Linked DNA regions of Homo sapiens. The protein of the gene in region 4 interacts with the protein of the main gene of each other region in a pairwise test. Each region holds a gene or a part of one and is shown on either strand. Other genes may lie near its edges. The genes, in order: MT2A, FAM117B, CNST, ICAM5, FAM135B, RAB3IP and CRLF3.

Region 1 (2,884 bases), on a different chromosome or scaffold from region 4:
TTTTGTGTCTTTTAAACTTTCATTTTCTTATTAACTCCTTATTTTACCAGAGTTTAGGTCTGTGACTAATGGAGAACAAAACAAAACAAAACAAAACTGGTCATTCCCCACAGGGAGTTTGGGAAACCGGATGTCAGATTCCAGCCACTGGGGAGTTGGATTTCACCCTCTGTAGTCACTTTCAAGTCTAAAATCCCACGAAGAACTGAAGTTGGGCAGGGAAATTGAAAGTAAAAGTGAGGAATGGAGAAGTTTCTGTGCCACATTTGACGTGAAACTGAAAGTGATCATGTATGTGTCCCTCCTGCTCCCATATGATCTGGCACAGCGCCATTCAGTTTTACAGAAGCTGAAGCTCAGTGCAGTAGCCTGGCTTGCCAGAATGCACTCTTTCTTAACGGCTCACATTTCCATCCACAGCCCAGGTCTCTGCCCTCCCAGTTCAATCCCTCACCCCAGTCCGTTATTTTTAAGGCATATAAAGGAAACCAGAGACAGAATCAAGTCAAAGCTGTTTTATTATCATTCACATTATTTCATAGAAAAAGGAATATAGCAAACGGTCACGGTCAGGGTTGTACATAAAAAATCCAGGTTTGTGGAAGTCGCGTTCTTTACATCTGGGAGCGGGGCTGTCCCAGCATCAGGCGCAGCAGCTGCACTTGTCCGACGCCCCTTTGCAGATGCAGCCCTGGGCACACTTGGCACAGCCCACAGGGCAGCAGGAGCAGCAGCCTGGGGGCAGACAGGAGGCGGCAGAGATGAGTACTAGCGACACCGGGAATAAGGATTCCTGCTCTCCCTGATAAGGATCACTGAGGAGGCAACAATTTCCGCGCAATGGGGCATCCCCAGACTGCTTTAATTCCCCTGAGGATGGTGGAGAGGGGACAGGCTGGAGGACAGGGAAGGGGTAGAGGAAAGAGAGGATCCCACTTACTTTTCTTGCAGGAGGTGCATTTGCACTCTTTGCATTTGCAGGAGCCGGCGCAGGTGCAGGAGTCACCTGCAAGGAGAAAAGACAGAGGTGAGAACCGTCCCTGGATACCTGAACAAGGGACGGCGTACTAAGAGCCCGGGGCCGAGTTCCTCAGTCCACAACCGATTCCTGGGAACTTGAGCAAGCCATTAACTCAGATCTCCTTAACGGTAAAAAGGGGGCTCCGAATAACCTAGAATGGAGAGAAAGATACCCCAAAACTCTTTGGGAAGGAGCAACTCCTGTCCTGAAATTGAGTGACCAGAGAAAGAAAGAGGGGTCAGAAATTGCTTCTCTAGCGCTACAGTCTACACTGGGCATCCCCAGCCTCTTACCGGCGGCGCAGGAGCAGTTGGGATCCATGGCGAGCTGAAGAGGCGGCTAGAGTCGGGACAGGTTGCACGCGGGTTCGCTGGGACTTGGAGGAGGCGTGGTGGAGTGCAGCGCGGCAAGCAGTGTTTATAGCTAGAAAGAGCCGGGACGAGTGCAAAAGCCCCGCCCCGGCCGGGCGCTGCCTGCACACGCCCCGCGCTGAGTCACTTGCGGCTCCAGGCGAAACACCCGGCCGCGCGCACTGGGCCGGGCGCACCCGGCTCTGCACACGGGCCGCGGGCGGTCAGTTCCCTGAAGGCGGCCCACTTGCGCCTCGGGGACGCCTCGGCGCGGAAGGGGCTGGGTGCAGCGGGAGGACACAGTGTACCGGGTGCTGGGTGCCCACGCCGTGCGCCTCCGCCGTGTGCACAGCTCCCCTCCCTCCTGTCCTGTACTCGAACCTGAGCCGTTAGCGCGCGGGTGAAAGCGGGACTTGGGAATGCTGCTTGCATTCCCAAACCGGTTGGAAGTGCAGACAGGTTACAACTCTGTAGCAGCCAAGGCTTAATAATTGTGCAGCATCACAGTAAACCCGTGGGGTGGTTACTGATGACGTATCCGTTGCATGTTGAGTACTTTTAGCGTGTAACAGGGACTGTAGGAAGTGTGTTGTGTGTGAGATGTCACTTAATTCTGTAGCAACCCATAAGATAAGGACTCTCCAGTATTCTCATTGTAGAGAGGAGAAACTGCAGGTCCAGAGAAGTTAATTTGTCCAGAGTCACACAGCCAGTGAGTGGCAGAGCAGGGTGAATGCGACCAGGCCCCAGCAGATGCTAACGGCCCTCTAACATAGAGACACCAAGGAGGAAGAGTAAGGAGAAGAAGCCACAAGCTTGGTCCTCAGGAAGCTCAGGGGCTGGGGGAACAGAGAGGAGGAGACCCCATCCAGCCTGGGAGGAGGTGGGCCATTGCCTTGGGCCTGAGGGTCAGAAGGTGTTTGCCAGGCAGGGAGTGGGAAGGATTTGTGTTCTAGCCTGGGAGGGAGGAACTAGCGGGAACACTGGAATCGCCCTGAGACATTTGGAAGGGAAAAACCCCACAAGAATATTCTTCCCCTGTGGAGGCTGAGGGGAAGAGCCCAGGTGGCGTCCACATTCCTGTCTGGAGAGGCACATCCTGCCTCCCTGCCTGCGCGTGTCTGGCGCTGTGTAAGGGCCTTAGATCGTCAACCTTGGAAGGCCCGAAGTGTGTCATGCTAGGAGTCAGGAAGTGGTTACTGGAAGCTTCCTGGCAGGCTTAGGGAATGCCGATTGCCACAGTGAAAGTTTAGTGAGGTGGTGGGCGGGGGAGGACAGGCTGTCCTTGCAGCCCTTACTGTAAGTTCCTGTGGAAATGTCTTTCTAGCTCAGCCGAATCGTCACTTCCTCTGGGGACCCTGTCCTGACCCCCATGACCGTGGCTGCCTGTGGAAGGTGCTGGTAAACATCCTGTTCTTTCCCCTCCTGGCGCTTTCCGTGCCTGTGGTATGTATAAACTGCGGGGACTCTTGGATTGGTGTCTCTGCCCCTCCTCACCAACCCCTGACCACTG
Region 2 (4,859 bases), on a different chromosome or scaffold from region 4:
CCCTAATGAGTACTACGGTCACAGGCCAAAATGATTAATAAATATTGTATGGGCTGATGAATGGCCTCAGAAGTACACATGTATCGTGTGGCACTTTTCTCCACTAGATAGAGAACCCACCAAAACAATAACTTAATAGAAATTATTTTCATGTTTACAGCCTAAGAGTTTCTTTTTAAATTTTTTTTTTTTTGAGATGGAGTCTCACTCTGTCACCCAGGCTGGAGTGCAGTGGCACGATCTCTGCTCACTGCAACCTCCGCCTCCTGGGCTCAAGCCATTCTCCTGCCTCAGCCTCTCAAGTAGCTGGGGTTACAGGCACCCGCCAGCCTCGCTAATTTTTGTATTTTTAGTAGAGATGTGGTTTCGCCATGTTGGCCAGGCTAGTCTCGAACTCCTGACCTCAGGTGATCCACCCACCTTAGCCTTCCAAAATGCTGGGATTACAGGCGTGAGCCACCGTGCCCGGCCAGCGTGAGTTTCAATTAAACATGAGTACTACTGTCATTACTATCATGATGCACATGTGCCTGACTTGCGGTTGGCTGATAACACTAAATAAAATGGGAGAAACAGTTAAGACGCTTGATGTGTCAAGTGTACAAAACTCAAACTAGATGAACTATTTTTCAAGTTTCTCTATTTTCTTGTCCTTACCCTCTCTGCAAGGAAATGTTTTTAAATTAAATATAAATTTCAAGTAAATTCCAATAATCTTTATTAAGTAAATTCAACTTGCAAGAAGAAAAAAATGAAAATTTGAATAACCACTTTAAAATTGTTGGTTTTAACACAAGTTTAAAAAATAATCACTTCAGAAACTTCTGAAGTCCTAAAACTAGCCACTTAATTCAATAAAATTCCATCCTAATCCCTATTCTACTTGGAGTAAAAATATGGACTGGGAGTAAAAAGTGGCCTTATTTTTTAGAAACACATACCATTTATTTATGAATGAATGAGAGGAAGGGGAAGGTTGGCAAATTCATCTGTAAAATCATCTGGGTCTTCAGCCTCTTGAGAGTGAGACTGGGTTTTTAATTAACATTCCAAATTCAAAAGTTATTAGTCTTTACAAATTTTTCATTTCTTATTTTGTCAATTTAAAATTTCTATTTCTCCAGAAATAAATCTAGTTTGTACAGAATATACACGAATACTAATGTATAACCATGTTTTTAATTAAAATATCAAATATAGAAAAAAGTTACTGGAAATTATAATCGAACTATAAATTTGGCTGGACATAGTGGCTCATGCCTGTAATTCCAACACTTTGAGAGGCTAAGGTGGGAGAATCACTCAAAGCCAGGAGTTAGTGACCAGCTTGGGCAACACAGACCCCATCTCTACAAAAATAAAAATAAAAAATAAAAAATATTAGCCAGGCATGGTGGTGCACATATGTAGTCTCATCTACTCAGCAGGCTGAGGTGGGAGGATCACATAAACCCAGGAAGTCGAGGCTATAGTGAATCTGTGATCACCCTGCTGCACTCCAGCCTGGGTGACAGAGCAAGACCCTGTCTCAAAACAAACAAAAAACAATCTCTATAAACCTGTGAAATCAAATCTGACCCGAGTATTAATATTTTGGGGCAAAATCAGTTTGAAAAAGTCTATACCTTTACCCATACTTTCCATTGCAAACAATCTATACATTTAACAAACATCAGACACTACCAAACTATAAAAGGGGTTGGCCTGCCTTATCTGTAAAGGGCCAAACAGTAAGTATTTTAGGCTTCGTGAACCAGACAGTCTCTGTTTCAACTACTCAATTTCAGAAGACTGGTTCCAGGACAGGACCCCCCTCCAAATACCAAAATCCACAGATACTCAAGTCCCTTATATAAAATGGCATGGTAAGTGCATTATGATTTAGGAACATCCTCCTGTATATTTTAAATAATCTCCAGATTACTTATAATACCTAATACAATGTAAATACTATGTAAATAGTTGTCATACTGTATTTTTATTTGTACTTTTAATTATATTTTAAAATATATTTATATTTATACATATTCTATTCTATTTTTCCAAAAATATGTTTGATCCATGGTTGGTTGAATCCATAAATGCAAAACCTGAAGATATAGAGAGTCAAATGTATATTTTTGTGGCACAAAAAGGAGCAATAGACAATACATAAAAAATGAGAGTGACTGTTTTCTAATAAAACCTTATTTACAGAAACACATGGTGGGACATTCTTGGCTCCCGGGCCACAGTTTGCCAACTCCAGTATTATAAAACAACCTGAGAGTCACAGAACTAAGTCTTCTAGTTTCCCTCTACCTTCCAGGCCCTGCTGCCTTACTGTTAACATGGAAAATTCAATCCAGCCTTCCTCATTCCCAAAGCTTCAATTCTGGAACTTGAAAGATCCTGAAAAGACCTGAAATGAACTTGCTTTCTCCTTGCCAAGAGATCTCATCCAATTTCAATTCAGTAAAAAAAAGTGTTCTTTGGATGGATGAGCCATCAAGAGCAGTTCATGGGTTCTACTAAAAAATCAAAGCAGATAAAGGTTTGTCTCTATCAAAAGACTTCTATGAGACAGCTATTTTTTTTTTTACATTTTTTTAAATTATACTTTAAATTCTAGGGTACATGTGCACAACATGCAGGTTTGTTACATACATACCCATGTGCCGTTTTGGTTTGCTGTACCCATTAACTCATCATTTACATTAGGTATTTCTTCTAATGCTATCCCTCTCCCATCGCCCCAGCCCACAACAGGCCCTGGTGTGTGATGTTCCCCGCCCGAGACAGGTATTATTATTCCCATCTTCACATGAGGAAACTGAGACTTAGAAAAGATAAGTTATTCAGCCAGGGCCTGTTCCATACCCAATGCTTAATTCTCTGTGTCATTCTGCCTCCAAAATATTGAACTGATAAAGCCAAAAATATGGTAAACCAAAATAGATAAGTAGCTATGTCTCCTAGAAGTCGTATCTTAGGTCACTAAAGGAAAATATCATTTTGTCAACTTAATATTCTGTTTTCTTATAAAGACTGTGATTCAGTATTTAAATCACTGTTTCAAATATGTTTTTGAGCATTTTTGTCCTAAACAATTACCAATGAAATAACAAATCACCAGAAAAACAACAAATTCCTTTTCTGGATTTTGTGGTATTGGTACTCTTACCTGACACTGGTTAATAGCTGCATGGTTGCCATGAAATGGAGACTGTCTTTCTTTATCTCGATGATGCCGACTGCTGTGTTTACTTCTCTGCAACTGCTGGCGTAATTTTGCAATCTGAGAAAGCAAAAATAGCAAGTACACCAGAGTGTTTTCTACATGAAACAAAAACACATCCTTGCTTAATAAGAACCAGTAAAACTTACCCTTAATAAGTCCTTTGAATTTTTGAACCATATCACAAAGTCTCATTTTTTGTTCATAATTTTATACACATCTACACATGCATGTATGTGTATATGTTCCAACATTGTTCTCAGCCTTCGAGCTTCCCAAGTACTACACAAATAGTTTTCAGCACTTAGAATAAATTACATTACAGTTTTCACGAAGAATTAAAAAAATAACAATCATTCTCATTGCCTTTACCATAAGTTAATTTTTATTTCAATTTAGATTTATTGAACACCTAGCTTTCAACAGTTCCAAAAATTACACAGTATTTAAAAATCAACTCAAGTCATGAAATATATTCACAGATATCATCTTTAAATAACGAATGCAATTCCAATGAATATCTTATTTATTCTTTGACCGAGTTTTTGCATTTCTACATTATGTGTGAAATGAAAATGTCACTAATTAGCAGCACAGAAAATGGTAATCATAGCATGGAGCCATAACCATCATGGTTATAGTGAGTACTGCATTTCAGAAACACCACCATATATAGAAAAATAATAAATGTGGCCAGGTGCGGTGGCTCATGCCTGTAATCCCAGCACTTTGGGAGGCCAAGGCAGGCAGACTGCTTGAGGTCAGGAGTTAGAGACCAGCCTGGACAACATGATGAAACCCCATCTCTACTGAAAATACAAAAATTAGCTGGCCATGATGGCATACACCTGCAGTCCCAGGTACTTGGGAGGCTGAGGCACGAGAATTGCTTGAGCCTGGGAGGCAGAGCCTGCAGTGAGCCAAGATCGCACCACTGCACTCCAGCCTGGGCAACAGAGCGAGACTCCGTCTCACACACACACATGCACACCCCAAAAAAAAAAAAAAAAGAATAAATGTGAATTTGTTGTATTGTTACAATTTTTAAATCTGATGTTAATAGACAGGTATGAATTCTCCTAAAAAAAGACAAACATACATAATCAGGTAAGTGATATATAAATATCCCTATTGAAATCTTTATTAAATCAACACAATAATTGTTTTTGTTATTTCAGAAGCCAAAAAGAAAAAAGAAATCAATGGAAAACGACAAATCCTTGCTGCCCATAATATCAAGGAAATAGCCAACAAAAGGATCATATTTCCACACCCACTATCTTAGAACCATTTTTCTGACCTCCTTAAGTTGATCTGTACTGCCCCAAGATGCTGAGCGCTTGTGAGACCCTTTCTTCTTTTCAGAGTATTCTTCAGCCCATGCACTCTCTGTCTGTAATGAAAAAAGAGGGGAGGTGTATTTAACAAAAATCATTTCACAACAATGTCTACCATATTTTTCTATTATAAAACATATTTCCATTACAAAAAAATTAGACATTAAAAATAATTAACACAAATTACTCAAAATTCTCCTGGCACCAGTTACTTAACTGGTATTAATTACAATTAATATTTTGGCATACTTCATTTTTATTGCTAATAAAAAATTAGTATTTTTACATAATTATAATTATACTAC
Region 3 (4,859 bases), on a different chromosome or scaffold from region 4:
CATCTTAGTAATCTTCAAAACAGCCTATTAATTTGGCAATGTCCCGTCAAAAGCTAGAAAAGGGAGGGCAAGATGGTTCTAAAAACATAAAAACCTAATCCAATTTTTAAAAAATTTTAAGGTAAAAACATGTTAGAATGAGACTTCCAAATGTTTCCACTCTGGTGCTTGCCTGAAGTCTGAAGGCCAAGTTCCCATGGATTCCTACAGGCGAAATTAATCTCCTTTATCTTAAAGCACTGTGGATGTGGGTGGAGGGTAGGGGGTGGTAGCCAAGGGAAGGGGTAATAGGATAAAAAGAATTAAGAAATATAATTTGTGGCTGGGTGCGGTGGCTCACGCCTGTAACCCCAGCACTTTGGAAGGCTGAGGGGGGTGGATCACCTGAGGTCAGGAGTTAGAGACCAACCTGGCCAATATGGAAAAATCCCGTCTCTATTAAAAATACAAAAATGTGCCGCGCGTGGTAACATGCCTGCGGTCCCAGCTACTAAAGAGGCTGAGGCAGGAGAGTCACTTGAACCTGGGAGGCAGAGGTTCCAGTGAGTGGAGATCATACCACTGCACTCCAGCCTGGGTGACAGAGTGAGACTCCATCTCAGAAAAAAAAAAAAGGATGTAAAAACATAATTTTTATGTGCTTCTAACTCTAACACAATTAAACCAAAACAAATTTACGAATTATGACATGCAAAAAAAATCAATAAAGTTAAAATAATAGTCACTGAACACGATGCTGCTCTGTAAAAATTAAAGTTTTGTTCACTAGTGGAATACGGTATACACTGTGACTGCACGGTTATCATAGGCACGTGAGGATCCAACTCTCCCACCACCAATTACTGAGAAATCTTTGTTTCTTTTTTTTTTTTTTTTTTTGAGACGGAGTCTGGCTCTGTCGCCCAGGCTGGAGTGCAATGGCGCCATTTCGGCTCACTGCAAGCTCCACCTCCCGGGTTCAACCAATTCTCCTGCCTCAGCCTCCAGAGTATCTGGGATTACAGGCGCCCGCCACCATGCCTGGCTAATTTTTGCATTTTTAGTAGGGACACGGTTTCACCATGTTGGCCAGGCTGGTCTTGAATTCCTGACCTCAAGTGATCTGCTCGCCTCGGCCTCCCAAAGTGCTGGGATTACAGGCGTTACAGGCGCGAGCCACCGCGCCCAGAGAGCACTGAAATCTTATATGAGAATGTTGTTTTAAAGTGTCAGTATTGTTCTTGAATAAGCTTATATTATTTTTTATCATTGAAATAAAAATAGGGAATTTTTAAAAATGCTAATTACTTTTTTCCTCTTCCACTTCTCTGTATTTTACATATTTTCTATGATAAACTTGTATTTTTTCTAGTTGAGTTTCATGACACCTTTATCGACATATAATTCATATACCATACAATTCACCCACTTAAAATGCACAATTCAATAGCTTTTAGTATTCACAAATTGTACACAATCAATTCTAGAACATCTTATCACCCCGAAAAGATCCCCCCTGCCCTACATACCCACTAGCAGTGATTTCCCATTCTCCTGCACCCCCACCACAGCCCCAGGCAATCACTCAAACCACTCATGTACTTTCTGTCTCTATAGATTTACATATTCTGGACATTTCACGTAAATGGAATTATACAATATGCGGTCTATTGCAATTAGCTTCTTTCACTCAGCATGTTTTCAAGGGGTATCCATGTTGTACTATATACTGATACTTCATTTCTTTTTATTGCCAAAGAATCTTCCACTGTACAGATATACCACCTTTTATTTATCTATTCATCAGTTGATGGACATTTGGGCTGTTTCTACTTTTTGACTCCTGTGAATAATGCTGTTATAAACATTTGTGCACGTTTTTGTCTGAACACTTGACAAAAGGTCAGGAGGTCAGGAGTTCAAGACCAGCCTGGCCAACATGATGAAACCCCGTCTCTACTGAAAATACAAAAATTAGCCAGGCTTGGCGGCGGGTGCCTGTAATCCCAGCTACTCGGGAGGCTGAGGCGAGAATCACTTGAACCCGGGAGGTGGAGGCTGCAGTGAGCCAAGATCGTGCCACTGCACTCCAGCCTGGGCAACAGAGTGAGACTCTGTCTCAAAAATAAATAAATAAATAAATAAATAAATAAATAAATAAAATACTTGAGGAAGATTTGTTCAGATTTGTTCTTTGACTCACTATGACTTTCCTTCATAATCTATTAAATTATTTTTGTTTTAAATAAAATACTACTAAAAATGATGCTTTTACATAGGAATCCTTATAAAGCCATAGCTGCTTATAAGAGAGATTTAGGAAGGACATGCAATAACCAACCAAGTCAAACTGATGCTGTGGTTGTTGTCCTTTTTTGAGTAACATATTCCTTGAAAAATCTGATGAAAGTTGAGAATTCCCTCTGAAAAATACACGTATTGTGCTTTGGGAGGCCAAGGCTGGAGGATCGCTCCTGGAGGAGGCCAGGAGTTCTAGACCAGCTGGGGCAACACAGGGAGGCCCTATCTCTGCAAAAAGTTAAAAAAAAAAAATTAGACTGCATACCTGCAGTCCCAGCTACTAGGGAGGCTGAAGTGGGAGGATTGCTTGAGTCCAGGAGTTTGAGGCTGCACGGAGCTATAATCTTGCCACTGCATGGCAACCTGGGTGATAGTGCGACAAGCTGTCTCTAAAAAAAATTTTTTTTAAAGAAAAAGAAAAAACACGAATTTTTGAATAACCATGTTTTCCTCAAGTTAAAATTTATTTATCTTTTTAAAAAATCTTTGGAGCGGCTGGGAGCGGTGGCTCACGCCTGTAATCCCAACACTTTGGGAGGCCGAGGCGGGCGGATCACAAGGTAAGGAGATCGAGACCATCCTGGCTAACACGGTGAAATCCCGTCTCTAATAAAAATACAAAAAATTAGCCGGGCGCGGTGGCGGGTGCCTGTAGTCCCAGCCACTCCGGAGGCTGAGGCGGGAGAATGGCGTGAACCCAGGAGTAGTGGAGCTTGCAGTGAGCTGAGATCACGCCACTGCACTCCAGCCTGGGCAACAGAGCGAGACTCAGTTTTATTAAAAAACATCTTTGGAGCATTATTACTTCTGTAATCAAGAAGGAAAAAAGAGGCAAAGATGTGTACTTCTACCCCCCACCACTTCGAGTTTCTAATAAAATATGCCTATTCTGACCTGTCAGCTTTCCATGGAAAAAACTAAAAGGTGAGGGAAGGCAGAATAATCTATAGAGACATTCTGGGCACATTTTTTCACTTACACTGAAGAGCTGGAGGAAAATGGAAACTCTCCAGCAAAGGCTATACAAAGTACGTGGTTTTACACAAAGCGTTACACAAGTACATGGAAGCTTTAGTTACAAAACAGATATTCTTAGAATATGTTTCCTCAGCCCAGATAAGTGTTCCTGGAGCAGAAATTTTGCTCATAAGGTTTTTGCACTCGCAGCTGTTCTCTTTGAGGCTTCAGGGAAGGCAAGCCATGGACACACAGGTTAAAGCTCTGTTGGCATTCACCGGGCAATCCCTAGGTTTTCCCCAGCTATGCAGTGGAGACAGGAAGGATAAAAAGCCCGCAGGCATCAGAATGCACGAAACTATAACCAACCAAGAGGCCACCTGATATAATAAAAACTAACTTCTTGAATTAAATACTATTTTACTTTAGGTTATTTTGAAATACAGCTTTCTCTGGCTAGTGAAAAGATGAGCTTTGGTGAATATATGATCTAACAGATTAATTTTAAAACAAAAGTTCAAATGTAATGGTAATAAGACAATCTTCTTCCAAGTCACAAGACCTATATTACATGATTAAAGTAGGGAAGAGCAAGGGTATTACCTCTAATTTTGGCTCTTTACAGTGCTTATCCAATGCTACAGGTATAACTCTAACTGGCATGCCGAAGAACTCCACAACAAAATTTTTAAAATACTTGTAGCAAGAAGAATCTAGAGATTGCTGTGTAAATCATTTAAAATAAAGCCTGATGGCTGAATTTGAATTAAGATGCCAAAAATGGGTATCAATAATGACTTTTCCAGGAAACTACATTTCACAATATCATAACCAGTATAATTTGCACAAACGTCCACCCCTCTTTTCATGTGAGTTGACGCTGAGGGAGGAAATCCTGTTGGTTACATGAATCCTTGTAAGATCCAATTTAAGTAAACTTTTTCATGCTTCACAAGTGGAAAAAAAAATCTAAAATGTTAGTTGTTGTTTCATGAGGTAAAAACAAATAACTCAGGCCTGGTGCAGTGACTCACACCTGTAATCCCAGCACTTTGAGAGGCTGAAGTAGGCACTCTGCTCGAGCTCAGGAGTTCAAGACCACCCTAGGCAACATGGCGAAACCCTGCTTCTATTTTTCTAAAAAATTAATAATTAAAAAAACCACATATCACACACATAAATAAATAACTCCACTATTTATTATTCAATAAATAAAACATACATTTGGCTGGGAGTGGTGGCTCACGTCTATAATCCCAGTATTTTGGGAAGTCAAGGCAGGAGGATCACTTGAGCCCAGGAGTTCAGGACTAGCCTGGGCAAAACAGTGAGATCTCATCTCTAAATAACAAACCACACACATTTTCACAAAAATCCTTATTGAAAAATCTTAGGCAATGTTTTTCAGTTCATCTAAAAATTATTTTTAAGATTTAGTTGTATACTGGGAATAAAAGCTGCAGAAGAGAAAAATAATGAACAAGGACAATGCATACAAAAAATCAAAATATAAGCAGTATACTATCAAATACTCAAGGACAGCAGCATTTGATCTTATAAAGTTCCCAAATTTTTTAATAACTTATTTCAAAATCTATAATATAAAAAAGTATTTAATTCAT
Region 4 (3,522 bases):
TTCAGTCCCCCTGCCACCTCCATCTCCCACCCCTCAAAGTGCGATCAACAGCCCCACCCGCTAAGGCACCTTTGACTTCTACTCTGTCCCACTTCCGTCTAGTCTACCGGGACCGAGAGGGAGGCAGGCGGGGCCGGCCGCCCCAAGACCCAGGTCACGCCCCCTCTCAGATACCTCGCCCCGCCTCTCCCCAGCTGCCACTTACCGGCCACGCGCACCGTGATGCGCCGCGCGTGGCGCCCGTGCGCGTTGGTGGCTGCGCACTCGTACTCGCCGCCGTGGCTTCCCATGGCGCCTGCCACGCTCAGTGTGCTGTTGTTGCTCGACAGGCCGATGTTGAGGGCCCCCGGGGGCGCGCGCCAGCTGATCTGGGCTGGAGGCCAGGCCTCCGCGCGGCAGGTCAACGTGAAGTTTCCTCCTGGGCGCACGCCTCCAGGGGGCGAGGCAGCAAGTTCGGCCACCACTGGCCGGTCTGAAGGGCACAGAAGGTGAAGTGGGGCTTAGCGCCGGCCCAGCCACTGATCAAATGCCCTGCTCCGGCCCACAACGATCGATGGGAGACCACCGCGCCTCTGATGGGCAGAAGAGGATCCTGCCTCCTATCAGAGCCTCCTTCCCCGACAATCAGGCTGCTGTTGCGGCTAAAATTCCTCGCCCTTCTTCACCGAATGGAAGGAGGTGAAGCCCAGGTCAGTGTTCTAATCCAGGATTTGAGGAGGGCCGTGCTCCTATTCCCTATAATTTTCTTTTTCTGTTTTTCTAAGAAAGAGTCTCACTCTGTTGCCCAGGCTGGAGTGCAGTGGCGGGATCTCGGCTCCCTGCAACCTCTGCCTCCCAGGCTCAAGCGATTCTCCTGCCTCAGCCTCCCAAGTAGCTGGGACCACAGGCGCCCACCACCACGACCGGCTAATTTTTGTAGAGACGGGTTTTCGCCATGTTGGCCGGGCTGGTCTCGAACTCCTGGCCTCAAGTGATTCATCCGCCTCAACCTTCCAAAGTGTTGGGATTACAGACCTGAGCCACTGCGCCTGGCTAGAATTTTCATTACCCCCTGGTTTAGGCTGGAATTCCCTGTCCCCGAGAATGGGATTGGGAGAGGTGCCCTTGAATGCTCCCACCGCTGCGAGTCATTCTTCCGAGGACCGTGTCCCCTCCATCCGGTGCTGCCCCCACTCACATTCCACGCCCACAGTGACGGTCCGGGAGTCCGTGCCATGCGCATTGGTGGCCACACAGTGGTAAGTGCCCGCGTCCTCTCGGGACACGCGCTGCTGCTCAGGCCATGGGATGCCTTCCCGAGAGCAGCGCACTCCTGGGGAAGGGCGACCCCGGGCGGCGCAGGCCAGCGCGGAAGCCTCAGCCCCTTCCAGCCACGTCTGGTGACTTGGGCAGGTAGATTCATCCATCTCCGGTGGCGCTGCAAAGCAGCCATGGGGGATGTCAGGGAGTGCCTGGACCGTGGGGCACCCCTGCTCCCTACCCGCCTGGGCCTCGCTCACACTCCGCGCTCACGACGACTGTTTTGGCCACGGAGCCGTGGCGGTTGGTGGCGTTGCAGACGTAGATACCGGGTGCCAGGACTCTAGGGATTCTGGGAGCTCTGGGACTAGGGTCTGGGGGTGCCAGCGGCAGCAGCACCCCCTCAGTGGCGCCCCCGGAGCCCACGCACTTCACGCTTGGCTGTGGCTTCCCATCGACCTCACAGGAAAACAGGCGCCCAGATCCTTCCACCCATGTCCAATTGCTGGGGCAGCTCGGCTCCTCAAACCTGGGGCCATCTGGGAAACAGGATTGCAGGGGCTCACACGGGGGCCAGGAAGTCCAGCCGGGGTTGTCCCACAGATCCTGCCTAACTCCGCGGTGCCCCTACTCACATTCCACCGTGACGGCCACATTTTTGGCCGCAGAGCCCCGAGGGTTGGTGGCTTCGCAGCGGTAAGTGCCCGCATGCTCCCGGGCCACACGCAACAGCCCCTCGATGACGGCCCCGAGTTCTCCAGAGCGCACGCAGATCACATCAGGCGGCGGTACCCCGTGCGCCACACAGCTCAGCGAGGCTTCTGTTCCCTCCAGCCAAGTAATGCGTTCTGGGCAGCCCACGCTGTCCAGCGCTGGTGCGTCTGGAGGAGGGAGTGTATTGTTGGCTTTGGGGTTTGGGGGCAAATCTGACGTCCCTAGACCCTCCTTGGCGCGGCAAGGCTTCCACGAAGTGTTGTCCCTGCATAACCCTTGGACGCCGATCCAAGGAGGTGTCACGCTAGTCGAGGCATGCACTCTGTCTGGGAGCTTCCTGAGCCACCAGTGGCGCCTTTTTCGTCTAAAAACTTAAACACTCTGGACTGCCCGCCTTTCCACGACTCCGCCCAAATACCACGCCCTAGGCTAGGGGCACGCCCACCCGGTCCCTTCCATCCTCCAAGATCTTTCTCCAACCCCACTAACCAGCCTCTTCCCTTTCCCAAAACCTCACCCAAAGGGACACCTCATACCCTACTCCTACTCTTCCCTGGAGGCTGGCCACCCTCCAGACCTTGAACCAGATAGAAATGCACCCTGCGCACCCCCACTCACACTCCACCGTTAGCGTTACGTCCTTGACCGCCTCGCCTTGATCATTGGCCGCCTTGCAGCGGTAAGTGCCTGAGAGCGCCCGAGTGACTGGACCCAGCAGGCCCAGAGCCAGCACGGCCCCGCCGTCGGAGCGCGCACAGTGCACTGAGGGTTCTGGGTTCCCGCGGGCCTCGCAGCGCAGCGTCTGCTCTGGGCCCTCGGGCCACGTCCAACTCCTGGGGCAGTCCGAATCGTCTAGCCGGGGAGCGTCTGCGGGCAGGGCGTGGGGTTACAGAGGCTTAGACGTAAGAAATGGCTCCGCCTCCACGACACGGTGAGGGAGCAGGCGGGTCCTTGGAAGTCACCAGAAGGTGGGGGGCGAGGGGTTATCACCAACTCACATAGGACACGAAGCTCTGCGCTCCTGTTCTTGATCAGGGTCTCCCCGTCCACATCGAGGGTGGCGTCGCAGAAGAAGCTGCGTCTGTCGTCGTTCTCGGTGGCATTTAGCTGAAGCTGGGCGGGCTGCCCCGGGACCGCGGCTGGAACTCCCTCCAGTGTGACCAGAGCTTGGGCCCCAGCTGCGCAGGTTACTGTCACCATCTGCCCCTCGGAGACGCTGGGTTCGCTCAGGGTCAGGAGTGGTGCCGGGAAGCCTGGGGGCGGAGCATTTGGTCGTAGTATACTGACCATACCCCTCCCTCCGGTCAAGGCCCGCCCCTTATCTGCCCGAATCCTCGGGGTGCTGAGAACGAACTAGGGTACGGCGCCCCGCCTCTCAGGCTGTACAGGCTCCTCCTCCCCAGCGATTACGTCTCCGCCCCCACCTGCCCCGCCCCTCGGGCCACGCCTGTTCCGGTACTGAGGTCCCGCCCACTCTTCGCCCCGCCTTCGCATTCCTCTGGTCCCACCTCGGAGCCGCGGAGACCCCGCCTCCTTCCTTACTGTAGATGGTCACGTTCTCCCGGGTCT
Region 5 (4,859 bases), on a different chromosome or scaffold from region 4:
CATCATCCGATCGGTCCTCACACGGCCCCGGTTCCGGTATTACCTCAACAAACTCCACACGTTCCTGTCACTCTCTGGGCCTCACCTGGGAACCCTGTACAACAACAGCACCCTGGTTAGTACAGGTAAGATTCTTCTAGGACTCGTCATTCCTCAGAATTAATCTGGGGCCTCTGGGGCGTGAAACCGGGCACAGGTACTTCCACTTGGAACCCTGTGACTGTGCAGTCTTTTCCAAGCATGGCATGGAGGGAGGAGTCCTGGCCTTAGAGGTGTGGCCCTTGTGTCTGGGGGCTGAGTGAGGTGACACTAGATGTTTTCCAGGATCATTTCTGCCTTCAAATTTCTGTGAAAAAAAGGCAATGTCTCTGGGGTCCTGGTTGGAAAAGACTGACAAGACACGGTGTTGTGATGAAGAGAACAGGGACTCTGAATCAGGCCACCTGCATGACAAACCTGTGGTTAAGTCCTGACCAGGACACTTGAGGGAGACTGTGGCCTAGACATTTAATCTCTGTGCTCCTCAGTCTTCCTGTTTGTAAAATGGAGGTTATGTGTGTGTGTATCTGTGTTTGTGTATATGTATGTATACATATATGTATGTGTACAAGCATGTACACAATGTAAGTATGTATACATATATATGGTGTGTAGGTGCATATGTGCATATGTGTATCATAGAATTGTTGAAGATTACACAGGGGAAGGAAATAAGGTTGACTAACATCTATGGGAGGTTAAATATATCAGCAAGAGTCAGACAAAGAAGGACCTCGACTGACTCCAGAATATGTTAGACTTACCCTGTAGACCTTGTAGATACTACTCATGAGATTTTACTGAGGAGGTGACATGGTTTGGTGTATGGAAGCCCAAGGAGGGCATTGAGTTTTATATGTAATAACAAATCGTTTATTAAATCATGTTCTTAACAACTACCTCAGTAGTCCCTGATTGTTCAAACCCATTATGTGGCATTAGGGTCACCCCTGATAAGCTTCCTTGTCCCTGCAATCTTCCAGGCCTCTGCCACTGTCCCCTGTCCTCTCCCACACTAACGTTGTTTCCTCATGGCCTGGTCAGTTTAGTTAGTTTGCTTTTAAGTTATTTTATGGCATACTTGTGAACATGAGTTATCCGACACAATGGCACATAACAAATGGAAGTCCTTTCCTCTGCACTCTGTCTTTCCTCCCAAACCAAGGAAGCCATTCTTTGGACAGAAACAAATTTGTTAAACTACATTTTTCCCCCACAGTTATAAAGGAATCTTGCAGCATCATAAAATATTTTTTAAAAAGACAGACTTTACCAATAATATCTCCAATCTAGCATATCCAGAGTAATTTTATATATTTCATTCTACTTATCTTTGTGCACACACATTGACGTAGCAGTCAGTGTAATATATGTACATACCATAGCTTGCTTATTTCCTTGTGTTTCTATCAGATTAATTTGCTTGTTGTGGTTATGTAATCCTTACACTCATCAATGTTAGTGTTTGCCTAAGCTTAGCTAAACGCATGAGATTTTTGTTGTTGTTGTTGTTTTTTGAGAGAGAGTCTTGCTTTTGTCGCCCAGGCTGGAATGCAATGGTGCAATCTCGACTCACTGCAAGCTCTGCCTCCCAGGTTCAAGCAATTCTTCTGCCTCAGCCTCCCAAGTAGCTGGGATTACAGGTGCCTGCCACCATGCCTGGCTAATTTTTTAATAGAGTCGGGATTTCACCATTTTATCCAGGCTGGTCTCGAACTCCTGACCTCAGGTGATCCACCCGCCTCGGTCTGCCAAAGTGCTGGGATTACAGGCATGAGCCACCATGCCCAGCCAACAGATGAGTTGTGAAGTGAGACATTTATTTTAGCTTTACTGTATCCTAAATGTATCTGTAAGGATCATTTTATATTCTTTTCGCATTGAAAATTATTACCCTAGGCTTCTTTTTCGGAAGGAGATTGACTGGATTGAAGAGTGTGGGTAGTTTCTTACTCCGAAGGCTGTTGTCCTGTCATCATTTTTGCAGGATGATTTAAGTCCTTTCCACCAGTACGTGAGAGGACAAATTTACCTCTAACTTCCCAACTATTTGCTAGTATGCCTACTTCTCTCTTATTTTCAAGTTAACTAAAATTCAGTTTAACGTTCATCTCACCAAAATTCCATCCCAGTTAGTTTTTGTTTTGTTTTGTGTTTTTGATTTTTATTTTGTTTTTGTCTTCCTAGGCTTATGGCTCATGCAGAAACTGAAGAAATCCGGGTCTCTACTGCAGCTGACCTTCAGGGATAATGCTGATTTGCGCAAATGTTTCCTCTACCAACTAAGCCAAAAAACAGGTCAGTGGTTTCCCCCACAGCTGCAGTTATGAGTTTGAGCTTGGGATTCAACTCCTGAGACACAAATGAGATATAATGCTACATTGATTCACTCACAGAAGGGCCTAGTCAGGAGGCCCAGCACTCAAAGCCTCTTTGGCTCATTGGGAGGCCAACAGCTACCAGGAACTCAGCTCCTCTTGCCCATTGCCCATATGGCACGTGAGAGATTGAGCCAAGGTGTGTGTAAGATCATTTCAATAGCCAGAAGCTGTAGCTTCCACTTTGTGCCAGTTTTTCAATGTTCTCATTGCATAGGCCTAAGATCTGTGTGCCAGCTTCACCCAGGTACAGGCCCATCTACAAAAAAGGCAGATGCAACATTTTCCACTGATGTTGACTGTGCAGTGGGAGACGGGGGTCATTGTCAGGCAGGCCTGCTATGATACCTGCACCCTCTCTCTGTCATGTGGAAGTGCATAGAGGTGTTGAAGACCCTACCTGCTACATGGGAATGTCCACAGAGGACAGCAGTAATGGTGATCATTGCCGAGTGGTCCCCATGTCCAGTCGGCGAGTGGAGCAGCTGACTGATTGCCCTGCTCAGTCCCACCACACAAGCTGGCCTGGCCCAGGGTCTGTTCTTGGTCACAATCTTCCACCGTCCTGTAAACACTGACTCTGCTGATCCCTCTGTGCCTGTGAATCTGGTGTAGCCACGGGCTCATCTGTGAGCCTGGCTGAGTTCCTTTCCTACTTTCTGCCTCTGTGTGTTGAGTTGAGCTCTTAGAGCTATCTCCTGTGGAGGAGGAGGAGGGAGGCAGGGCTTGGCAGAAGAAGGTGGGACTGCAGTGTGATCACTGTAGAGTCCATCAGGGGTGCAGGAGCTGGGGTGGCCCTGGAGAGCTGTCCTGAAGGAAGGGGAGGGGCTGACCATTACACCTTTGTCTTCCTCGCCCATGTATTGGCCAGCTGTTGAAGTAGGCTGCCCCCAATGTGTGATGTCTGATGAGGGGACCCACACTTCAGTAGGGCACACATAGCTAAGAGCTGACAGCCGCCCACCCAGCAGGATCTGGGGAATGAGAAGGACAGTCTCAGTACAGATGGAGTGTCCGGGTAGTCTGCAGTGCTCAGGAAGTTCACGATGGGCTCTGAGGCCTGCAGGGATACACTGTGATGTTTAATTTGAAGGGTCCCTCTGTCTGCATTGTGGGGACAGATTGCAGGAAGGCAAGACTGGCTGCAGAGAGGTGAGTTCTGAGGCTGTTTTCCTAAAGCATGGGACGTGGTGAAGGCTGGAATTAGGAGAGGTGCTGGAGTTGAGGAGGAAGAACAAGATAGTCAGACTGACTTTTCCTTATGAACCCCTTAATATTTCTATCCCCAAAAGGCTTTTTTGGTCCCATTCTAGTTGCTTATTTCTCTGTGTCCAGAGTAGCTTTCTGTGTGTCTCCTTAGCTTTCATGGCTGATGAGAGCAGGCTTCATCTCCCCTCACAAACGCAAAGCCCCTGCTTAGTGACTTCTTTTCTCAACCTCCCATAGGCCCCCGCGATACCTCTATGCCATCTGCTGTGCATTGTTAAACCTCAGGACAGAATGTCCTTGTGTGATGACACTAGTGTGTGGTGTGTCAACATTTTTTCTCTCTATAGGACAAGTCTGGAAATTTGTGCAAATTTCCAGAGGGTGTTGAAGTTGAAACTACCTGGGTAAAAAGCACTCATCTGGCTAATTTTTACAGGGCTGCAGTATTTTAAAAACGTCGTGCTGGTTGCTTCTCCCCAAGACCGTTATGTGCCATTTCATTCAGCCAGGATTGAAATGTGTAAAACTGCCCTCAAAGACAGACACACAGGTAAGCTACATTTAATTTTTGCTCAGGGACTTTCTAATTTGAAAAGCAAAAGTAAATTCATGGAATTGACTGCCTATTGGGAACACCTGGGCTATAGGTTTAGTGCTGCATTTATCTTAGCTTAGTGATAGGACAAACATAGCTCATCTCGATGTTACTGTGCCAGATCCTTCCTTTGTGTAATAAACAGTCACATGTTTATTAGATTATGAAACTTCTGTTCAGTCCTATTGTGTGCCAGCCACTGAAATTGATGACTGGGATGTATAATTCAATGAGACAGGCCCTGCCCTCAAGGGGCACATTGTCTAGTTGGAGCCTCGACAAGTAATAGCAATGAGAGTAAAATGTGATAAGTCAAAAAATAAAATAATGCCTAAGGCATTAAGGCAGCCCAGAAGTGGAACAGGACATAGGACAGAGTCAGACGAGGATCCCTGGAGATGACAATGAGTTAGGTTTTAAAGGATAGGTAGGAATTTTCCAGACAATCAAGATGGATGTGGGCTGGCATTTGTGGTTTCCTTTGGTTAATTTGTTTAATTGTTTTTTTTTAAAAACATGTTTTTAGCTTTTAATTTTGAAACAATTTTATACTCAAAAAATGTTGCAACAACAGTACAAAAAATTCCTGCATACGTTTCACTCTGATGCCCAATATTAGCATCTTACATAACCATTGT
Region 6 (4,859 bases), on a different chromosome or scaffold from region 4:
GTAATGTAGTCATTTAAAAATGACTCCCAAGGCAATGAGAACTTCACTGGAGACTAGAGGCTGGTTAAACGATTACTGTCTGATCTAATGCCAAGGTCATGCACTGGGAATGAGGGGATGGAGGCATATATACGTATGGAAAACATTCAGAACAGCTTCATTTATATTTATTCACAAACACACAATTATTCCAGTTAATCTTCAGAGCATTCATTTGAAATGGTTCTTATCCCTACTTTACAGATATATAAAAAAAAGAGGCTGAGAGAGATTAATTTTGTCAAATACACAAAAAGTAACAGAGCTAGTATTCAAACTCTGGTGTGTCTGACTCTAACACCTAACTCCACTACATCTGAGATACACTTAGAAGCTGAAATGGATAGGGAGTAGGGAGATGGGAATAAAGGTTAAAGCACAGCAAAGGATCTCTAAGAAGTGAACAATCCTGGGTGCAGTAAACCACCATGGCACGTGTATACCTATGTAACAAACCTGCATGTTCTGCACATGGTATCCCAGAACTTAAAGTTTAAAAAAAAAGAAGTGAACAATCCAAACAGAATAATAATGTTTAATCTCTGAACCCTTCTCTTACTTTCACAAAGACAAAACTGAAGTTTCTCTAAAGCACTGCTATTGAAATGAGCATTTGCTATTGCTTTGTGTTCTATTATTTTCCCCTATATTATTTTTGTTATCATTTCCTCCTCTGTTTTGTTACTATGCCAGAATTTAATACTTATTCAGCTCCTTACAGGACTTGGAAAAAAAAAAACAGCACATAAATCAAAATAAACAGAAACTTGAATTTACTATAGTACCCATATTCCTGTGTATTTTTTTAAAAAGTGTAGATATTTTATACCAAGGAATTAGTGTTAATTTTTGAAAATTTGTAATAATAAAAGCAGGAAATGTAGATTAAAATGAAAAAATAAATAAAGAACAAAGTTTGTAAAAGTACTGCAGTTAACTGCTCTTATCTTTGGGAAATACTGAAATACCTACAGGTGAAATTACACAGGACTTGCAATTTGTTTCAAAATAATATAGAAGTGGGAGAAGTGGATGGATGAGGACTGATCACTGTTGATAGTTACTGGGCTACATGATGGAAACTTTTAGGTTCATTATACTATTGTGTCTACTTACCTTATTTGAAACTCTCCATAATTTATAGTGCTCTCAAAATAAAAAGGAAAGTTCAAAATTTATTCAAATACTGTATAATAAAGGAGGAAAAAACAAAACAAGTATATATATAAAATCATTTTTTCATTAGCTTTCATAATAATTTTAAAGTTGGCTTCCCAAACTAGCATTTTAGTTATGACAAAAAAAATCACATTTATCTTTTAAGAAGCATTCTATGTTTATAAATGCAAATGTAATTAATAGCCCAAGGGCAAAATTACTCAAATGGTCAATCAGGCTACACAATTTTCCCATTTTTATTATAATAGATCACAAATGAATTCCCACTAATTCCACAATACTTTTTTTTTTTTTTTTTTGAGATGCAGTCTCGCTCTGTCGCCCAGGCTGGAGTGCAGTGGCACAATCTCGGCTCACTGCAACATCTGTCTCCTGAATAGCTGGGATTACAGGCGCCTGCCACCACACCCAGCTAATTTTTTGTATTTTTAGTAGAGATGGGGTTTTGCCATGTTGACCAGGCTTGTCTCGAACTCCTGACCTCAAGTAACTGTCTGCCTCAACCTCCCAAGTGCTGGGACTACAGGTGTGAGCCACCATGCCCGGCCTAATTCCACAACACTTCAATGTACAACCTGACATGTGTAGAGATGTTAGTTATTGCAGTGTGTTATGTTGACAGTTTTCAGAAAATGTTCTGAACTTATGAGCTAATATTATATTTAATTACAAATAATTATTTGTAATAATACAATGAGCTAATATTTAATTACAAATATTTATTTGTAATTAAATATTTATTTAAATTAACAGAACACCGCATGTTCTCACTCATAAGTGGGAGATGAACAATGAGAACACACGGACACAGGGAGGGGAATATCACACACCAGGGCCTGTGGGGGAGTGGCGGGCTAGGGGAGGGATAGCATTAGGAGAAATACCTAAGGTAGATGATGGGTTGACCGGTGCAGCAAACCACCATGGCACGTGTATACCTATGTAACAAACCTGCACATTCTGCACATGTATCCCAGAACTTAAAAGTATAATTTTTTAAAAAAATCATTTTCCAAATTTCTTTTTCTCAATAATGGAAGCTTCATTTTACATATTCTCTTAAGAATATATGCCAACTAAACATTCAACAGGTGCTGAAATACGCACTGACTAAATAAATAAACAAGAGTCTTTAGAGAAGGAATGAATAGCAAAGCGGTAAAGAGTGGAGACAGTTATTCAGGCTACATTTTTGCTGAAAAAGATAGAAATGAAACAGTAAATACTTTGCGAGAGTATCAAAACTGGAGAAATTGAAGTTTGAGAAAACCTGAGCATTTTAACAGACTAACTTCAGAAAACCTTCCTTCTAGTTCAGATTCTGTCACTGACAAGCTGTGTGAACTGACGCAAGTCATTTAATCTCTCTAAGGTTCAGTTTTGACATCTATAATGGTAGTGATATTATCTCCCCTGCCTACATTTGAGAAAATCAAATGGCATATCAATGTAAAAATGTATACATTGTAAAGCACAACATAAATGTATGATTTTATAAAGATCTAAGAAAGAAAAAAATGTAATGGGGGAAATAGCAAAAGCATACTGAGGGGTTTGTCTTACAAATCAGAAGGTATCTTTATTTATCTTAGGTAAAAGGAAAGAAAGGGAAAACTAGTCTTTATGAGGCATGTAGTTCAAATATGATTCTTTTCCCCACAGGGAATTGATACAAATTTGCTTATTGTTTTTTCAAACTTATTTTGGTTTTTCTTTTATACTTTATCCTTATCTGACAACCAGATGCTCCCAAACAAATATTCAATACTATTACTTTTATCTGGGCATATCAAATTACAATTCACTTATTTAAGTGGTTCTAAGCTATCATCTATATGCTCCTTTATGCTCATAGGGCATTCTCACATTCTTGAATAGTTTCTTCATACTAAGCTGTCAATTCATATACTTATTTGTGTATGTATCCATACCCCTCAGAGGAATTTCATCAACTGCCATTATGATTATATTTACAATCCTACTGTTAACGACAAGCATCAAATCTTTCATGAACTTGAACTATTTGAATAATTTTCATTCTTTTTCCTCTAAGTAATATCAGTTTACGGCTATAGTTATCTAATTTCGTGTTGCCCTATATTCTAAGATAAATCAGATTACTTTTTCCACTTTTCTCTAACCATGACTATGTACGATGTAAGCTTATAAAACTACCTCATTTAGTGGTAAGTTGAAAAGGAAAGCAGAAGGGAAAATAGAGATAGCAAGTTAATGCTCCCAGTTGTATAAATATCTTCCTCTTCCTTCCTTTGTCCCTTCATTTCTCAATGTTCATTTCAATTTCTACTGCTAGAGCAGCTTCAAAACATCCTAACATTCTTCAACTGATCATCCATCACCAAACACAGCACAGTACTTACCTGGCCCGATGTTAAAGCTATAAAATGAGGTAAGCCCTACTCTCGAAGCACTTGTAGACTAGAGGAAGAGACCACCTTGCCAATAAACATGTTTCTAGGGCCCTAGAAACAATTACAAATACAACACAAATATCAAAGTTCATAAATACCAAAAAAGAGGTACTCAGTATTATAAAAGCATAAAATTTTTAAAAAGAGTACCATCTGGTACAACTAAGGATAGTAGCATAAAAAAGGAGAAACAAGCTAGAAAGCAGTTTACAAAAGCTCAGATATTTTGTTTTTAGGATATCAAATGCGTAGTAACCAATTTACTATCCTTTGATGAACTGCATCTTAATCAGAATTATATCGGAAAAAAGTTTAGTGTGAAAAAGCGTACTCCCTTGGAATATCTTCAAAGCTTTCCCTCATTACCTCAATGCACAAATATCTCTACCCACTATCCATCTGTCCTTCCTCTCCACTACTCAACTATCCTAGCACTTTGTCTTAGTTGACATTCATTAAAATATGTAAAGTGCGTTCTACATTTTGAAGAACTTATAAAAGATATGGGAATGATTATAAGGCCCTACCTTCCATATTCCTTAAGAACAGTTTCCTTTAACCCCTACTGTGACTTGCAGAGTAGATGCTCAATGAGTATTTGATTTAAAAAAATCTCTGGTGACACAATGAGAATTACATATTACATTAACATTACGTATCTCATAAAAGCTAAATTACAAAGTTCTTCAGCATTATAAGCTACACATAAAGAAGTGATAATGTAGTGATTATGAGCAAACAATTCTTTAGCATTACCACTTATACATGAAGAAATGACAGAGTGTAGTGGTTAAGAGCACAGACATGGAAGACAAACTGTCTGACATCTAATCTAGACCTGTCACTTAATTAACTATGTGACGTTGAGCAAACTACATAAGGTCTCAGGGTCTCAATTTTCTCAACTACAAAATAGGGATAAAGTATTATCTCCTCGCTCACTCTGAGAGTAAATGAGTATAAAGCTTACACCAGGACTTCGCTTGATAAGCACTAGACTTAAAAGTAACTGTAGTAGCAATGCTGGTATCACCGTCTTCAGAAAACTTGGATATTTTTAAACCAGAAATACAAATGGTAACACTTGTCATCTGTGTGCCTCCTTATAGTTACAAAGCTCTTTAATAGAAGGTGCAGACCAGGAATGTAAGAAACAAAAGCACTACGTTCCATTTTGGGCAGTCGGATACAGTTTTTAATACCGGCTCT
Region 7 (3,614 bases), on a different chromosome or scaffold from region 4:
GTTTGTGTTTATTTATTAAGAGATGGGGTCTACCAATGTTGCCTAGGCTCACTGCAACCTCGAATTCCCAGGCTCAAGCAATTCTCCCACCTCAGTCTCCTGAGTAGCTTTGGAACTACTGGTGGGCACCACAACACCTGGCTAAATTTTTTTTTTTTTTTTTTTTTTTTTTGAGACAGAGTCTTGCTCTGTTGTCCTGGCTGGAGTGCAGTGCCAAGATCTTGGCTGACTGCAGCCTCCACCCCCCGAGTTCAAGCAATTCTCCTGCCTCAGCCTCCCATGTGGCTGGGACTACCAGCGTGCGCCACCACATCCAGCTAATTTTTGTAATTTTAGTAGAGACAGGGTTTCACCATATTGGTCAGCCTGGTCTCGAACTCCCGACTTCAGGTGATCCACCAGCCTAGGCCTCCCAAAGTGCTGGGATTACAGGTGTGAGCCACCACACCCAGCCAAATTTTTTTTTTAAGTGAATAAAAAATGGCTAGGCATAAGCCACCATGCCCAGCCAAAAAATCAATTCTTGTGATCATATCATCACACAAACTCTTCCCTCCTAGCACATAGGTTTGGAGTACTAGGTTCCCTTACTTACTTGAACAGAATGATTTTTTTTTTTTTTTTTTTTTTTTTTTTTGAGACAAAGTTTTGCTTTTGTTGCCCAGGCTGGACTGTAATCATGTGATCTCAGCTCACTGTAACCTCTACCTCCCGGAGGGTTCAAGTGATTCTCCTGCCTCAGCTTCCTGTGTAGCTGGGATTATAGGCATCTACCACCATGCCCAGCTAATTTTTGCATTTTTAGTTGAGACGGGGTTTCACCATGTTGGCCAGGCTGGTCTCAAAACTCCTGATCTCAGGTGATCCACCTGCCTTGGCTTCCCAAAGTGCTGGGATTACAGGCGTGAGCCATCACGCCCAGCTAATGAGTTCATTTTTTTAAAAAAAATCTTCACAGTTCAAGAAAAAAAGTCAGTATTTAAATTAGTTTCAAGGACAGACACAGTGGCTCACGGCTGTAATCCCAGCACTTTGGGAGGCCAAGGTGGGAGGATCACTTGAGGCCAGGAGTTCAAGATCAGCCTGGCCAACATGGCAAAACCCCATCTCCACTAAAAGTATAAAAATTAGCCAGGTGTGGTGGTGCACACCTGTAATCCCAGCTACTTGGGAGACTGAGGCAGGGAAATCCGTTTAACCCAGGAGACAGAGGTTGCAGTGAGCCAAGATTGCACCACTGCACTCCAGCCTGGGTAACAAAGTGAGATTCTGTCTCAAAAAAAATTAGTTTCAGAGTTCCAAATATTACCACTCCTGTCTCAAATTAGGTTTAAGGCACTCCTGTGAACAGGCAGATTCTATAGGTATAAATTAAGATGTCATTTCCCTAGAGAGGCTAAGAAATAAATACATTCAACAAATATTTGATGAATTAAAGGAATGAGATGAAGATATCTGGAGAAAACGACTCATTCGATCCACCATTCATTCTGCACACATTGTGTCAGGCAAGATGCTCAGTATCAGACACAGAATATAGGAAAGTACAAGTAACCAGCTGGGTGTGGTCACTCATGCCTATAATCCCAGCACTTTGGAAGGCCAAGGCTGGGGAGGACTGCTTGAGGCCAGGAGTTTGAGACCAGTCTGGACAACACAGCAAGACCCTCATTCTCTACAAAAAATATTTTTAAAAAAGTTTTTAAAAGAAAGTACAAGAAGGTACACATACCCTTTCACAAGTCACAGTGATATCTTACTAAAATGCCTGGAGCCACAAGAAGCCTGTTTTCCCTTCAAATGAAAAGTAGGTTAAAACTGGATTCACCAAATCTCACAGAAGAAAAAAGTACACACACTGAACTTTTTTAGTTTTTTATTTTGATTCCTATGGCTGGACAAGGTATCTACATTCTAGAACATCTTCTTAATCCCTAAACAAGTGGAAATCTACTACTTATATATAAAAAGACAAGTAGAAAAGGTCATGATTGTCTAACAGGGAACATGAATCCCCAAATAAATTATCTTACAAAAATATCATACTTGCTTTTCTACTTTTTTACTATACTGGTAAAAATGAAATGAAAAAAATAATTCACATTAAAATAAAATCTGTAGGGTGGCATAGAAGACAATTATTTTTACATATTAAAGTCCTTCAAATAAATATTTTACACACAAATTTAAGTAAGTTTTTAAAAAAAATAAGTATTTACGCTATATTTTTTTGCTCTGCTAAAAAGAGACCACTTATTAAACTGACATTAAACTGGACTGCAGCTCATTCTCTGCAAAGAGTAAAATGCATGTCACAGGCAGATTGGATACACACGTGCATATTACATACATATGAAATGGCTAACACTGCTGTGCATACTACTGCCATAACTAGTTTTACCCTGTAAAAATACTGTAGCCTATACTGTATCAAATTGCAATGAAAGAACAAAAGGTACTACTTGCCTATTTTAGACACTTGGTCAAGCATTTAAAAAAATACAAAAATTGGTCCACTGCAGTGGCTCACACCTGTAATCCTAGCACTTTGGAAGGCTGAGGTGGGTGGAACACCTGAGGTCAGGAGTTCAAGACCAGCCTGGCCAACATGGTGAAACCCTGTCTCTACTAAAAATACAAAAATTAGCCAGGTGTGGTGGCCGACGCCTGTAATCCCAGCTACTCAGGAGCCTGAGGCAGGAGGATCGCTTGAACGTGGGAGGCAGAGGTTGCAGTGAACTGAGATCACACCACTGCACTCCAGCCTGAGTGACAAGAGTGAGACTCCGTCTCAACAAAAAAAGAAAAAGTTATAATGTTTTGGGGACTTAAAGATTACTGAAGAGGGGATAAAAGTCAACACTGCTTACAAATACCTGAACATGGAGAGCACAGTCAACACATTCATGTGGACAGCACATGAACGGATGTATTAATACATTACACAGCTTCTTCTATCTGACCTATTCCTCTTGTTCTAAAGAGTTACATGGACTTGGATCCTTTAAGATGATTTTAAAAATAATATTACATTAAGTTTTCCTGGTCTAATAACCAACTTTGAGAAGTACAGTGGAAGGGTATAGAACTTCCTATATCTTCTATACTTTTAATGCCAATTTGATTTTTATTGTGATGTGATATTTAACAGTATGCTAAAAATAAAATTGACTGAATTGTATGATTTTGTCCACAACATTGAAGTCTCTTTTTGCTAAAATATTACAAAATGAATCCAGTAAACACTTTCCAATGGCCTAAGTTAGAGATGAATTCAACTTTTTTTTTAAAGCAATTACAACTACGCTGGGCTGAGGACAGCTACGTTAGACCCTGAAAACCAAAGCCAAGCACCCAAACATCTAAAACACTAACACTTTCCATCCAGGATAGAAAAATGAGCATCCAAAGTAAAGAGAACCACAAGACTGATCAAGTAACCAGTCAAAAACCACTTCTCTATTATTTGAACTTATAGTTACTCGAAGCTTGAAGTGTCCACCTTCATTATTACTGGTGGTTCCTAGAGTCACGGCTTCAATGTCAAACGTGACAGTGGACCCAGAAGTAACTGCGGGTAACTGATTTGTCATTTCTTTTCCATTGACAAAAAC

What was found.
Region 1: the proteins of ICAM5 (region 4) and MT2A interact in binary tests that used the Homo sapiens proteins (3 or more experiments, as listed by UniProt).
Region 2: the proteins of ICAM5 (region 4) and FAM117B interact in binary tests that used the Homo sapiens proteins (3 or more experiments, as listed by UniProt).
Region 3: the proteins of ICAM5 (region 4) and CNST interact in binary tests that used the Homo sapiens proteins (3 or more experiments, as listed by UniProt).
Region 5: the proteins of ICAM5 (region 4) and FAM135B interact in binary tests that used the Homo sapiens proteins (3 or more experiments, as listed by UniProt).
Region 6: the proteins of ICAM5 (region 4) and RAB3IP interact in binary tests that used the Homo sapiens proteins (3 or more experiments, as listed by UniProt).
Region 7: the proteins of ICAM5 (region 4) and CRLF3 interact in binary tests that used the Homo sapiens proteins (3 or more experiments, as listed by UniProt).

The regions. Positions count from the first base shown.
Region 1 is NC_000016.10:56,607,114-56,609,997, reverse strand, and holds MT2A (metallothionein-2), read right to left. Parts: upstream 1,415-2,884; 5' UTR 1,343-1,414; coding exon 1,315-1,342; intron 1,007-1,314; coding exon 941-1,006; intron 736-940; coding exon 644-735; 3' UTR 501-643; downstream 1-500. UniProt on the Homo sapiens protein: Metallothioneins have a high content of cysteine residues that bind various heavy metals; these proteins are transcriptionally regulated by both heavy metals and glucocorticoids.
Region 2 is NC_000002.12:202,724,668-202,729,526, reverse strand, and holds part of FAM117B (protein FAM117B), read right to left. Parts: intron 4,611-4,859; coding exon 4,518-4,610; intron 3,278-4,517; coding exon 3,164-3,277; intron 1-3,163.
Region 3 is NC_000001.11:246,572,255-246,577,113, reverse strand, and holds part of CNST (consortin), read right to left. Parts: intron 1-4,859. UniProt on the Homo sapiens protein: Required for targeting of connexins to the plasma membrane.
Region 4 is NC_000019.10:10,292,296-10,295,817, reverse strand, and holds part of ICAM5 (intercellular adhesion molecule 5 precursor), read right to left. Parts: coding exon 3,496-3,522; intron 3,207-3,495; coding exon 2,952-3,206; intron 2,821-2,951; coding exon 2,572-2,820; intron 2,121-2,571; coding exon 1,875-2,120; intron 1,779-1,874; coding exon 1,500-1,778; intron 1,418-1,499; coding exon 1,178-1,417; intron 473-1,177; coding exon 206-472; intron 1-205. UniProt on the Homo sapiens protein: ICAM proteins are ligands for the leukocyte adhesion protein LFA-1 (integrin alpha-L/beta-2).
Region 5 is NC_000008.11:138,136,464-138,141,322, reverse strand, and holds part of FAM135B (protein FAM135B), read left to right. Parts: coding exon 1-125; intron 126-2,226; coding exon 2,227-2,337; intron 2,338-3,973; coding exon of another isoform or gene 3,974-4,014; exon of another isoform or gene 4,015-4,056; intron 4,057-4,062; coding exon 4,063-4,176; intron 4,177-4,859.
Region 6 is NC_000012.12:69,741,350-69,746,208, reverse strand, and holds part of RAB3IP (rab-3A-interacting protein isoform alpha 1), read right to left. Parts: intron 1-4,859. UniProt on the Homo sapiens protein: Guanine nucleotide exchange factor (GEF) which may activate RAB8A and RAB8B. Promotes the exchange of GDP to GTP, converting inactive GDP-bound Rab proteins into their active GTP-bound form.
Region 7 is NC_000017.11:30,780,825-30,784,438, forward strand, and holds the end of CRLF3 (cytokine receptor-like factor 3), read right to left. Parts: coding exon 3,363-3,614; 3' UTR 1,860-3,362; downstream 1-1,859. UniProt on the Homo sapiens protein: May play a role in the negative regulation of cell cycle progression.